Homo sapiens: one gene and its partner. The protein of the gene in region 1 interacts with the protein of each later gene in a biochemical or structural test. Each region holds a gene or a part of one and is shown in the gene's direction. Other genes may lie near its edges.

Region 1 (7,038 bases):
CTGATTCCTTTTATAAACACATGATCATTTACTTACTACCTGCAGGTTGTCGCTCATTCATAGATCTCATCTTCTCACTGAGTAAATTGTTTCCATTGACTGAGATTCTTCACTACAGCACCTAGTACATCAGTTCATTCTCTCATATTCAGCCTTTTTTTTCACTGGTACTTTATTGTGACTTACTAAGATTTAAGCAACAGCTCCTGGATGCTCTGCTGTATCCATTTGGGTGTGCAGAAAAAAGAAAAAACATGTTTTAAAAACTGTAGCACACCATCCCTTGTTTTCCAACTCAGAACTAACTAGATCAGCCTTTAGTCGAAAAGATAATGGGAGCTCCACGTAGTCATGTAGTCAATTAGACCAAAATGTGGAGGTAGCAAGAAGGTTTTTTTTTTTTTTTTTTTTTTTTTGAGATGGAGTCAGTCTTGCTCTGTCACCCAGGCTGGAGTGCAGTGGCACTATCTTGGCTCACTGCAACCTCCGCCTCCCAAGTTAAAGTGATTCTCCTGCCTCGGCCTCCCGAGTAGCTGGGACTATAGGCGCCTGCCACCACACCCAGCTAATTTTTGTGTTTTTAGTAGAGACAGGGTTTCACCATGTTGGCCAGGCTGGTCTCGAACTCCTGACTTTGCAATCCGCCCACCTCGGCCTCCCAAAATGCTGGGATTACAGGCGTAAGCCACCGCGCCCAGCCCACAACAAGGTCTTTATATGTTCTTTGCCTTTGGCTCCTAGGATTAAGACCCTCCATGCCCAGATTATTGAGAAGGATGCCATGATCAAAGTACTCCAGCAGCGTTCCCGGAAGGAGCCGAGCAAGACAGAGCAGCTGTCGTGCATGCGGCCAGCGAAGTCTCTGATGTCCATTTCCAATGCTGGATCAGGCTTGCTCTCCCACTCATCCACCCTGACTGGCTCCCCCATCATGGAAGAAAAGCGAGACGACAAGAGCTGGAAGGGGAGCCTAGGTAATGACAGTAAATAAGGAAGATTATAGTCACGTGTTCAAAGAGAGCCCTGAGATAAGCACCCATGCTTAAGGAAAAGGGATGATGGTCCAGGTTCTAGAGAGGAAGGTGTACCAGGGTTTTGGAGTTTTTTTTTCCTCCTGAGACCCTAGTTCCACATTCTGGAGCTCCTCCACACTTTGAAGTCTCCCGGTGAGAATACCGATTGAGGCCAAGGCTTAGAGGACAAGAATCTTGAGTTTCATTTGGGTGTCAAGGAAGATAACTCTAATTTCCTCTAAACTATTCTCAGATTTGGCCTTTGCCATGTGGCACCTTTATCTTTCTCCAAAGCCCATGTGGCCTTTGTGTCGTTCCAAATGTCAAAATTCCGGCATTTCTGTGTTCCTTCCTCCTCTATAATAGGAGAACCCAGAGTTTTAGTTACACTAAATCGTTTGGGTAGCAGGTTTTGTTCCCACAGTGTTGTGAGATGAGAACAGAATGTACTTTTTCATTCCGTTCCTGTCCATTCCCTCCCCTCTAATCAAAACCCCAGACATATTGTGGATACCACGAGGCACATTTTTAGAGCCCGAGGAAGGAAGCTTATATATATTTTTATTTTAACCCTTTTTGTTGCTGTTAATTCCTTTCTTGGTCCTCTGATACTTGTAATATCTTTTGGTTAGAATAAGCATTTTGGGGACTATGGTCATGGTGAGAACCTCAGATCACACAATTATTACCACACTCAATCTGTGTCAACAGACTTCTTCCCCAGATCCTTTCTTGCTCCCTGGTAACGTGTGGTAATGGTTTATAAGTGGAGCCGAGTAGGAGCATTCTGACAACTTGGTGGAACCCAATCACCATTGGAAAAATAAATCAAAACAGATACCCAGGTCACTTACAGGCTTAATATGTTGTGCCAGGTGATGGATGAGGACCAGAAGGGATCCTCGAAGTCTGTAGGAAACTTTTAGCCATGGTTGGAGGAGCCTCACACACTGATTTCTGGGTTCCCTGGAGGCAAAAATAAATAACTTAGACTATTCTAAATTATTTAATATTTAAAAATAATAATATTTTAAATATTTAAATAATATTTACTTATTTAAAAATAAATAAATTTCTTCTGAAATTTGAATGGGAGAACAGGTAATTAGATGTCTGGATTTGAATCACCTATTGTTTTCTAACATCTGTTCCTCTTTCATTTGTAGGCATTCTCCTGGGTGGAGACTACCGTGCTGAATATGTCCCTTCCACACCCTCGCCTGTGCCACCCTCGACTCCCCTGCTCTCGGCTCACTCCAAGACAGGCAGCCGAGACTGCAGTACCCAAACTGAACGTGGGACGGAATCGAACAAAACTGCAGCTGTTGCTCCCATCTCTGTTCCTGCTCCAGTTGCTGCTGCCGCCACTGCTGCCGCCATCACTGCCACTGCTGCCACCATCACCACCACCATGGTAGCTGCTGCTCCAGTTGCTGTTGCTGCTGCTGCTGCTCCAGCTGCTGCTGCTGCCCCGTCTCCAGCCACTGCCGCTGCTACTGCTGCTGCTGTTTCTCCAGCTGCTGCTGGTCAGATTCCAGCTGCTGCCTCTGTTGCCTCAGCTGCTGCCGTTGCTCCTTCTGCTGCTGCTGCTGCTGCTGTTCAGGTTGCTCCAGCTGCTCCGGCTCCAGTTCCAGCTCCGGCTCTGGTTCCGGTTCCAGCTCCAGCAGCGGCTCAGGCTTCTGCTCCTGCTCAGACTCAGGCACCAACTTCAGCTCCGGCTGTGGCTCCAACTCCAGCTCCAACTCCAACTCCAGCTGTGGCTCAGGCTGAGGTTCCTGCAAGTCCAGCTACCGGTCCTGGACCACATCGTTTGTCTATACCAAGTTTGACCTGCAATCCAGACAAAACAGGTAATTATTCCCTTTAGCAGGTAGGTTTTGGTTTAGTTCTGCTCTCAAATACAGATTTATTTCTTGTTGTCTGATGTCTGGGCAGAGTTATCATTTGGACTGAGTTTTTCACGTTCTAAAGGAGAGAGAAGAGAGTCTGTAAATGACTTCTCATCCACCAAGATGGGAACAGGCATGAGTAGAGGCCATTATCTTAGCAGAAGTAAATGAGGGAGGTGGCAGGCAAGTCTCACTTTGCCATTGGCTTCATGAGGGCTCTGATGGTGTCTGGTTCTAGAAATATGGGTTTTTTCTTCATCCCTAAGTGTTTTCTAACCCTTATTTCCATTTAGATGGGCCTGTGTTCCACTCCAATACTCTGGAAAGAAAAACTCCCATTCAGATCCTGGGACAAGAGCCTGATGCAGAGATGGTGGAATATCTCATCTAAACGGCCAAATCAAGAGCTGCAGATTATCAGCAAAAATGCTTTTAATCATTTTCCCCCTTTTATTGGTTCTTGTTTTGAGGGTGAGGACAAGGGTTGTGGGGAGGGGATGTTTTTTAACAGGACTTTTTATTGGAACAATGTACTACTTGAGTAATACCATGTGAACACCAGTCTATTTTGGTATGCTTAGGGAGTACCTCTAAAGACAGATTAATCAGAATGTGCTCTAAAGCTTATTGTTTGAATTTATACGAATACTGGGACTGTTAACAGGTGGCTATACATCGACGTTTTCAATGTGCTTAAATTTGTTTAAATTTTCCATATTCTAGATCATTTTTTATTGAAGAGCACAGTATGTGTGGAAGACAGTGTATAACACGTAGTTTGGAAGTGGGAAGCTAGAGAGAATTGAGTGTGTGCTGTTTTGTATAGTTACTATCCTGTGCAGCAGCTGGAGAAAGCACTCACCTCAGGCTTACAAAAGGGAATAGTTTCAGGAGCTATGTAAGCTGGAAAAAAGGTAGGGAGTTTTGGGGTGCAGAAGGGTACTGGAGCTAATTTTTTCTTCCAGTTTCCCAGCTACCCTGCCCCAGGGAATTGTGTTTGTCTTCATTTCAGTGGTGCTTTGGAAATGGATTCTTTTGGTTCCCTCCTGGAGGTTCATACATTCATATATATGCTCTGGAGTAATTTATGCATTTGGATAATTAATATATTGCTTTCAGATGCTGGGAGAGTACATTAACTGAGTGATGCGCAACTTCCTCTCTCTTAGGGAATTAGACCATCAGAGGCCTTGATGGAGAGTTGCATGGGGTGCTATATGCAGACTTCCATGGTTTGTGTGTAGCCATGAACACAGCTTGCTTGCATTTAGTAAGACCAATCAGCTTAGTGTTTATTTCTTCTACAGCACAGATTCACTGGCTGGGTCTCCAGTCTCAAATTGCCAATCATTTGCAAAGTGAGGAAGGATCTTTGTTGACAGGTTGAATGCTTTGAATTTCTGGTGACTACTTTGAAATAACTTGTTTTGTTTGTCAAATTCTAAGCATATGTCTTAAAAGGCATTTTTGACTATCACCTCCAAGGGAATAGCTTGAGAAACCCAAAGTACTATGCTGCAGTCGGGGGAGAGGTGGATTGCAGCAGTATCCTCAACTACCTCTTCTCACTGTCAGTGACACCATCTTGGAATACCTTTGGGAAGCAGCAGGAAATGTGCATGTGGGTAGAGATCAAAGGAGGCAATGGCTCCAAGCCTTGCCATAGGGCTGCCTCCAAGGACACAGAAGGATGCCAGTTGCCACAGGTCCCTGCCCTGTGTCACCTGTCTGCCCTTCATTAAGGTGAGAAATCTGCAGATAGCATCATTAAGATCAGTTTTAAGGGGTATAGGGAGGGTGAGGGAAGTGGGGGGTGTTAGGTAAGGGTTGGGGGTAGAGGTTTTGGGATGTCTTAGTTAGAAACCAGATTAATAGAAGAGTAGGCCTGATATATTACATCATGAGCCATAGTGGTGGGAAAGAACTTTAGCAATATAGCCCTACCTCCTCATTTTAGTGATGAGGAATCTGAGAACTGGAGAGGTTCAGTGACTTTTTGAAAGTCATACAACACAGCTAACCATTATGCCAATCACCATGCTTATTTTGGGAAACTCTTTATCTTTTTTAAATTCCATTTTATGAAAAGGCATCTTCATGGTCCAGGGAATATGTATCTTGTAAAATGTACCTGGTTGGAGTAGCTTGTCCAGTCTTGACAAACTACTGAATTTCTGTCTTGCCTCTCCTTCAGTGCCTTTTAAAAGGTTTTCCCTTTTCTGATCTGCATTTCAACATAGAGTCACATAAATGTCCCCCTGAGAAACCAATCCCACTTCTTTCTAGGAGATTGGGTATCTTAGATAATCTTTTGGGGTTCCTCTGTGAGTATAGGAATGGTATCCTTCCTAATTATCTTCCAAAGGAATTATTTTGTGTGTGTGCCTGTGTGTGTGTAGAGACATAAAGGAGGGTGATGTGATTTTCAGCTAGTCCTTTCACATTTTCAATAATGAGGTAATCATGTTACATACACATTAGTCCTCAGTTATAAAGTGAATCTCAGATAGAAATTAAAAGTGCAGTTGTGTTAAGACTCTTTCATACTACCCTTTAGTCATAAGGAGAAAAAAACACTCAAATAGTAGAAGCAGCAAGTAGCAAACTTCAGGAGAGCTACTTTCTATCCAAATAATTTAAAAAACACTTTTCACCTACTCCTTTCATGGTTATAACACATTGGCAGACTTTTTGCTGGCTCTGGGAGCCATGATTTTAATCACATTCTGCAAGGTGACAAATGTCATACATTCCACATTGTGTGGTAGCCATCTCTTTAGACTCATGTGTTTTGGGGAAAGGAAGAAGTTCTTGGCTGAGTACTATTTTGAACTTTCCAGAACCCTCTCACACCAGAGACAGTTCTTCTCTGTTCAGTTTCCAATCCCCGATAATTTGCTAAAATAACATTGTACATCCAAGAGAGGGAAGAAGAGTATGTCAGTATATTATGCAGAAGATAGATACAGCCTTTTCAGAAGATCTCCACTAGTTTTTGTTCCAAAAATTCAAGTTTATGGGAGAAATCTCAATTAGCCACCTTTTCACAGTTGTGTGGATATAACATTTGGGGGATCTTTCTGGACTCCTACCTATCTGTGCATTTTACCGGCACCTCAGGAAAGGAGGGTGACCAGGTTGTCTTAGCTTGTACTGCTTGGTGATCTCTGAGGACCTTCTAATTCAGTTGTACCCCAGTGTTCCATGTATAGAAAAACTTCATTAGAACAAACTTTACTTGATATGAAACTCCTATTAACAGTCTTTTTTTGAAATAAAAAGTAGCTTGAGCTTTCTTTTAAAATCATGTATCTTGATTGTTGATTTAATGAAGGATTTCCTTTTAATGCTGCTTTTGAGCTTCAAGGTAATAGGACAGCAGGAACCTAAAATATCTGCCATCATCTGCCATAGGAAAGATACCCAGAGACCCATCATGTTCTCTTTTTGTTGTTACACTGTTGGGTGGGTATAACAATTGGAAAATGAACAAACTGATTGATTGTGCAAACTACTTTTTATGACAAGCCTAAACCCTCATAATGCGGCAGCTTAAAGTGTATACATATGCACTAACTTTGATCAATTATATTCTCATATCTGTTAGCTACACAGTCTCCTATTATCTCAATTGCTTATGTGCATATGGAATATGTTACTTAAAACGTGTGCATTCTTACTGAAAATGTTTTCAAAGGAAGGTATCAGCTGTGGGCTAATTGCCACCAATTTCAGCCTGCCACGATTCTTGGAAATATGTCTTCCAAGTGCCATCCATCATCAGTAGGACAAGTGTCGGGAGTTTGTTTATTTTTTTCCAGTAGCAACGATGGGTTACATGGAGCCATGAAACCTCCTTCTGGCCTCCCTTGTGATTAATGGCATGTGTTTGTAAAATGGATAGCTGGGGTTGGCAGATGGCTAGAGAAGAATCGCCTTTGGTTTAAAATGTATGTGGTCCCCTAATGATTGTGACCCCATTCTGTAATCAACTGAGCTAGTTCCAATAAAGTTAAGCAGGTTTAAATCCACTTTGTGCCTATCTTTTCACTGACAATAAAGTTAGCTATTTTAAAATGCAGTACCGTGTGGAAAATGCTTTGGTGTTTACCCGACAGAGGCTTTATTTGTGCTGT
Region 2 (7,038 bases), on another chromosome or scaffold:
ACTTGGGGATGTTTAAGATTCTTTCTGACACCTAAGAAATTGTATACATATCAACCCATGCCACTAGTCCTACCTACCTTTAGCATTAGAATGGACACTTCTTCCAGGCAGGCCACATCCCCAGATCCTCATACCCTGTGTACCGCAAAGCAGGTCTTCTGGAAAGGTCTGATAAGTTGAATTGTTTGTAGTAACAAAAGCCAGGAAACAAGCTAAGTGTTCTTTAGAAAGGACTGCTAAAACGAACAACAAACAAACAAAAACATTGGCCAGGCATGGTGGCTCATGTGTGTAATCCCAGCACTTTGGGAGGCCAAGGCAGGCAGATCACTTGAGGTCAGGGGTTCGAGACCAGCCTGGGAAACATGGTAAAACCCTGTCTCTACTAAAAATACAAAAATGAGCTGGGTATGGTAGCATGTGCCTGTAATCCCAGCTACTTGGGAGGCTGATTTAGGAGAAATCGCTTGAACATGGGAGGCAGAGGCTGCAGTGAGCCGAGATCATGCCATTGCGCTCCAGCCTGGGCAACAGAGTGAGACTCCACCTCAAAAAAAAAGAAAAACCCAAAACAAAAAATTTTTTAAAAAATAATAACCTCCATACAGTAGATGAGGAAGATCTATAGTTATAAATGTGGAATAGTCACCTGAATTTATTGTTAGAGGAAAAGGATGAAGTGAAGAATGATGTGTGTACTCTGGAACTTTATTGTATAACAATAAACTAGGGTACATATGTATCTGTGTAGATTTCCTTGCATATGCATAGAATAGAATATCTCTTATAGGATTCACAAGAAACTGGTTACAGTGATTGTCTCTGAACAGAGGAGAAAATGAAGGAATGGGAGTCAGAGCTGAGAGGAAGACTTACTTATTGCATGAATGTTTGCTTATATATTTTTAAAAATAAACATACATTTATTTCAAACTATTGACAGATACGTTTAGGTTTTTATATTTTGCATATGCGCATATATATGGAGAGAGGTGAAAGGAGAGCATGAATCTTAGAATTAAAAATATATATATTTGAACTCTGGCTTCACTGTTCTGCAGTGTGACCTTGGCCAAGGCTATGATATTCTCTAAGATTGCCTTTCTCCTGTTGTAAAATGGAGATGAGAACATCTCCCTTTCATGACGTGTGTGTGTGCGCAGCAGATTGTTGCAATCACTTGTAAGTGAGTTTCCCCACTGCTTTCCTCATGGAATTAAAAATCTCAATTTCTCTTTCTTCCAGCTTCATTCAGATATTGACTCTGGTGATGGGAACATTAAATACATTCTCTCAGGGGAAGGAGCTGGAACCATTTTTGTGATTGATGACAAATCAGGGAACATTCATGCCACCAAGACGTTGGATCGAGAAGAGAGAGCCCAGTACACGTTGATGGCTCAGGCGGTGGACAGGGACACCAATCGGCCACTGGAGCCACCGTCGGAATTCATTGTCAAGGTCCAGGACATTAATGACAACCCTCCGGAGTTCCTGCACGAGACCTATCATGCCAACGTGCCTGAGAGGTCCAATGTGGGTGCGTACGGTGTGGGAGGCCTGCTCTGCTTCCAGGCCTGGTGTCTCTGTGGTGGGTGGGCTGAAGCCCGTTCTCCCAAATCAGGAAGTAGAGCTTCTTCTTTATCTTTTATGGCAAAATAACAAAAGGAACAAAAATTCTTTTGTTCCTCTGTAAAATGGGAATAACAATTTCTAGTCTTGTAGGAATAGAGATAATATACATCCAGTCGCTAGTGCGTATTGATGTCTAATAGGTAATGACACTGGTAATATCTGTTGCCTGTAGACATTGTGCTAATTAATGACTTACATGCACTATTTTATTTAGCTTTTGCAATGATTAATCTTTACAATGAGGTAATTCCAACTCACCGTATTTCACAGATAGGAAACCCATGCCAGAAACAAGCTAACTAATTTCTGTAGGGACATTTGAGCTATTAAATGGATCTAAAATGCACATTTAACCACAGCACTATGTCACTATGTTCAGAAGTACGTATATCTTTTCAACATGCTTGAAGACACATTAAGTTGCTAAAGGATAATTTTTTAAAGGATTTATTCAAAGAATTAGCCACCTTCTGGCAATAGCCTTCTTTATAACATGCACATAATGAAACATTTGCATAATGTTTCTTTTGAGAAACATTCCTCATATTAAGAAAGGTTTGTCTTTCAAACAGTGAGTAGAACTGTTCTAATCAGGGAGTGAGTCTGCTTAAAAGAGTTTTAGAGCTCAAATGAATTCAGGAACATTTTACAGATGAGAAAATCCAGCAAGTATAGGAATCAACCTACTTAAGAAAGATAGGTTTGACTCTAGAACGCTAAGATCCTTCCACTGTGCATACAGAGCTTTTTATGCCAGAAAATGGTATATTCCTTCTCCACCAGGAAAAGTCAAGTACTTATCAAAAGCCAGCCTGAACCATTTCCCACCTTTGTCTCTTCCATTTTCCCTGCCCAGTCCTTCAGCCTCTTGGTGTTTAGCCTGTGTATTATAATGAGAAACAACAAATATCAAATAAATCCATACAGAGGAAACAGCAGTGTCAGCAACTGAGTGTCAAGGGTGGGGATGGGGTGGAAAGGCAAATCATCAAAATATATAATCCAGGAAAATTTTCATTATTCTCACCTTTGCGGGCTCATTGATGTTTAGGGATAAAATTCAGGCTTTTTTTTTTTTTTTAGTTTCAACTTTTATTTTAGATTCAGGGGGTACATGTGCAGGTTTGTTTATTTATTTATTTATTTATTTATTTATTTATTTATTTTGAGACAGAGTCTCCCTCTGTTACTCAGGCTGGAGTGCCGTAATGCCATCTTGGCTCACTACAACCTCTGTCTCCCGGCTTCAAGCAATTCTCCTGCCTCAGCCTTCTGAGTAACTGGGATTACAGGAGCGCGCCACCACGCCCGGCTAATTTCTTTGTATTTTTATTACGGACGGGGTTTCACATGTTGTTCAGGCTGGTCTTGAACTCCTGACCTCAAGTGATCCACCCACCTCAGCCTCCCAAAGTGCTGAGATTACAGACGTGAGCCACCGTGCCCGGCCCATGTGCAGGTTTATTGAGTGAATATACATGAATATACTGTGTAACACTGAGGTTTGTGGTATGAATGACCCCATCACTCAGGTAGTGAACAGAGTAACCAACAGATTTCGGCACTTGTCCTCTGGCTCCACTCTAGTAATCCTGTGTTTATTATTCCCACTGGGTAAACATTGGGTTCATTTATACCTCCAGTTATAAATGAAAGCATGTGGTATTTGGTTTTCTGTTCCTGTGTCAATTTGCTCAGGATAATGGCCTCCAGCTGCATCCGTGTTGATGCAAAGGCATGATATTATTCATGCCACCATGCATAGTATTCCATGGTACATATACACCACATATTCTTTATCCAATCCACTGTTGATGGGCACCTTGGTTGACTCCATGTCTTCGCTATTGTGAATAGTGCTGCAATAAATATACAAGTGCAGGCGTTTTTCTTGTAGAACGATTTATTTTCCTTTGGGTCTATAAAGAGTAATGGGATTGCTGGGTTGAATTGTAATACTTTTTTTTTTTTTTTTCTGAGACAGAGTCTCGCTCTGTTGCCCAGGCTGCAGTGCAGTGGCACGATCTCGGCTCACTGCAATCTCTGCCTCCTGGGTTCAAACGATTCTCCTGCCTCAGCCTCCTGAGTAGCTGGGATTACAGGCGCCTGCCACCACACTGGCTAATTTTTTTGTATTTTTAGTACACAGGGGTTTTGCCATGTTGGCCAGGCTGATCTGGAACTCCAGACCTCAGGTGATCTGCTCACCTCGTCCTCCCAAAGTGCTAGGATTACAGGCATAAGCCACCGTGCCCAGCCTTGAATTGTAATTCTGTTTTTTTTGAGACTTCTCCAAATTGCTTTTCAGAGTGACCTAATGTACATTCCAACCAGCAGTGTATATGTGTTCCCTTTTCTCCACATCCTCACCAGCATGTTATTTTTTGACTTTTTAATCATAGCTATTCTAACTAGTGGGAGATGGTTTCTCATTATGGGTTTCATTTACATTTCTCTGATGTTTAATGACGACCAATTTTTTTATATTTGTAAGCCATTTGCATATCTTCTTTTGCTAAGTGTCCATCCATGTCTTTTGCCCACTTTTGCCCACATTGTTTTTTTACTTGTTGAATTGTTTAAATTCCTTATAGATTCTGGATACTAGACCTTTGTTGGGTGTGTAGTTTGTGAATATTTTCTCCCATTCTGTAGGTTGTCTCTTTACTCTGTTTATAGTTTCCCTTTGTTGTGCAGAAGCTCTTTAGTGTAATTAGGTCCTGCTTGTCAATTTTTATTTTTGTTGCAATTTCTTTTGAGGACCTAGTCATAAATTCTCTCCCAAGGCCAATGTCCAGAATGGTGTTTCCTGGGTTTTTTTCTCTAGGGCATTTATAGTTTGAGGTCTTACATTTAAATCTTTAATTCATCCTGAGTTAATTTTTGTATATGGGGAAAGGTAGGGGTCCAGTTTCACTCTTCTGCATGAGGCTAGCCAGCTATCCCAGCATTATTTATTGATTAAGGAGTACTTTCCTCATTGCTTAATTTTGTCAACTTTGTTGATGATCAGATGGCTGTAGGTGTGTGGCTTTATTTCTGGGTTCTCTATTCTGTTCCACTGGTCTATGTGTCTGTTTTTGCACCAGCAACATGCTATTTTGGTTACTGTAGCCTTGTAGTATAGCTTGAAGTTGGGTAAGGTGACTCCTCCAACTTTTTTCTTTTTGCTTAGGATTGCTTTGACTATTCGGGCTCTTTTTTGGTTCCATATGAGTCTTAGAACAGTTTTTTTTTCTAATTCTGTGAAAAAATGATGTTGCTAGTTTGATAGAAATAGCATTGAATCAGTAGATTGCTTTGGGCAGTGTAGCCATTTTAATGATATCAAATGGGAAAACATTCTATGCTCATGGGTTGAAAGAATCAATATCATTGAAAGGATCAATATTCCATTTGTTTGTGTCATCTATGATTTCTTTCAGCAGTGTTTCGAAATTCTCCTTGTACAGATCATTTACCTCCTTGGTTAGATGTATTCCTAGGATTTTATTGTTTTGTGGCCCTTGTGAATCGCACTGTATTCTTGATTTGGTCCTCAGCTTGAGTGTTATTGATGTATAGAAATGCCGTTGACTTTTGTACCTTGATTTTGTATTCTGAAGCTTCACTGAAGTTGTTGATCAGTTCTAAGAGCCTTTTGGCAGAGTCTTTAGAGTTTTCTAGGTATAGAATCATATCATTAGTGAAGAGAAATAATTTGACTTCTTCTTTTCCTATTTCGATGTCTTTTATTTCTTGCTCTTGCCTCATTGCTCTGATTAGGACTTCCAGTACTATGTTGAATAGGACTGGTGAGAGTGGGCATCCTTGTCTTATTCCTGCTCTGAAGGAGAATGCTTCCAGCTTTTGCTCATTCAGTGTGATGCTGGATGTGGCTTTGTCATGGATTGCTCTTATTATTTTGAGAACTCAGACATTGTATTATGGCATATGACAGTACAGTCGTTGTTGTCAGACAGTACTATGAATCATGGCTGTACTCCTAATCAGCCTTACGAACCCAGGCAACCTATTATACCTTTCTAAGTTTTTATTTTGCCATCTATAAAATGAGGATAATATAAACTATGTTGAAGGTTAAATGAAATAGATGTGAAATACAAAACCATTGTAAAGGATGTAGCAGAGTTCTAGAAGGAAATTAAGCATTTAAAATTAATAATTTCCCTAGCCACACCATGATGGTATTTTCCTTTATAAATCTATCCTGCCTAGAATAGTGACTGACAAATGGGAAGAGCTCCAAAGAGATTGTTTCTATGAAATAATGAATTATAGAAGAGTAACTAGAAAAAAGTGAGATGTACACCACACAAAAATCACTGACAATCCTATAAATTAAAGGTAGTGATAGGCTGTGTAAACTGGCTCCCTTGCCTCCCACATAGAACCTTGCCCCTCTGCTGAAAATGTTACAGAAATAACTTGAGTTTTGTTGTGTGCTGGATTGGGGTTAGACTTTGGCAATTACCAACTTTGTGAAATAGATTACAAAGCTTCATATATCTCAAGTTCAATTTCTCACTAATACAGTAGATGTAAAAAATGCCCAGCAGAGGAATGCTGGCAAAATACATGGAATGTGCCCCCAGATCATGCTGGCACAGAGAAATTCGATAATTACTGGTTTTCTTCTTCCAGCTCCTCTCTCCCCACTCTGAAGCCCAACATGCCATGCCCCAGATACTTGCTATTTGTGACCAGCCAGGAACAAAGGTTGTTTTTAGGAAAAGCAGAACCCCATCTTTCTTCAATTTCCTGGTTTCCCTTCGTTCTGACCCATGAATGCTTCCCTTACCTCTCACCAGATGTTTACTGGTGATTTCTGTTATATGGCTACCAGACCAGCTACAGGTGGGAAGATGCAATTTTCATGCCAGTAGGGAACAGCATTCTGCTCAGTATTTATGGCCATAAATTAATTAAATTGTAGAATTAGCAGCAATTTTATTACATGCAAAGCAACAATAAAATGATGTATTTATTGTTCTGCTACAGATGGAAGATTGCACTCTGTCCTTTCCTGAAAGCAATTTATCGTTAATTATCATTTATTATACTCTGGGAAGATTTTAATGTAATTATTTGATATACTGAACATTTCAAGTGCATGAGTTGTAAGATATTTTTGCAATAATATTTATAATATTATTTTAATCACCAACCAATGTAGGATGTACTATAAATACAGAAAGTTCATTTTTAAACTGTGGCCATTTTTATAGAGCAGGAAGGAAGGAAGGAAGGAAGGAAGGAAGGAAGGAAGGTTGGTTGGCTGGTTATTTTGCATCTCAACTCCAGGAAAATGAGAGAATGTTGAATAATTGTGGTGCCTTCTTCAGGGTTAATTTTAGAATAAAACTTTGTAAACAAGAACATAATTTGAAAATCTGAGGAGAT

Evidence for each region. Proteins that work in one complex are often made in the same cells at the same time.
Region 2: the proteins of AMOT (region 1) and CDH11 form a complex in vitro, tested with the Homo sapiens proteins (one study listed by BioGRID).

What each region holds. Positions count from the first base shown.
Region 1 is NC_000023.11:112,774,822-112,781,859, reverse strand, and holds the end of AMOT (angiomotin), read left to right. Parts: intron 1-741; coding exon 742-974; intron 975-1,071; exon of another isoform or gene 1,072-1,142; intron 1,143-2,179; coding exon 2,180-2,863; intron 2,864-3,195; coding exon 3,196-3,293; 3' UTR 3,294-6,983; downstream 6,984-7,038.
Region 2 is NC_000016.10:64,993,064-65,000,101, reverse strand, and holds part of CDH11 (cadherin-11 isoform 1 preproprotein), read left to right. Parts: intron 1-1,245; coding exon 1,246-1,540; intron 1,541-7,038. UniProt on the Homo sapiens protein: Cadherins are calcium-dependent cell adhesion proteins. They preferentially interact with themselves in a homophilic manner in connecting cells; cadherins may thus contribute to the sorting of heterogeneous cell types.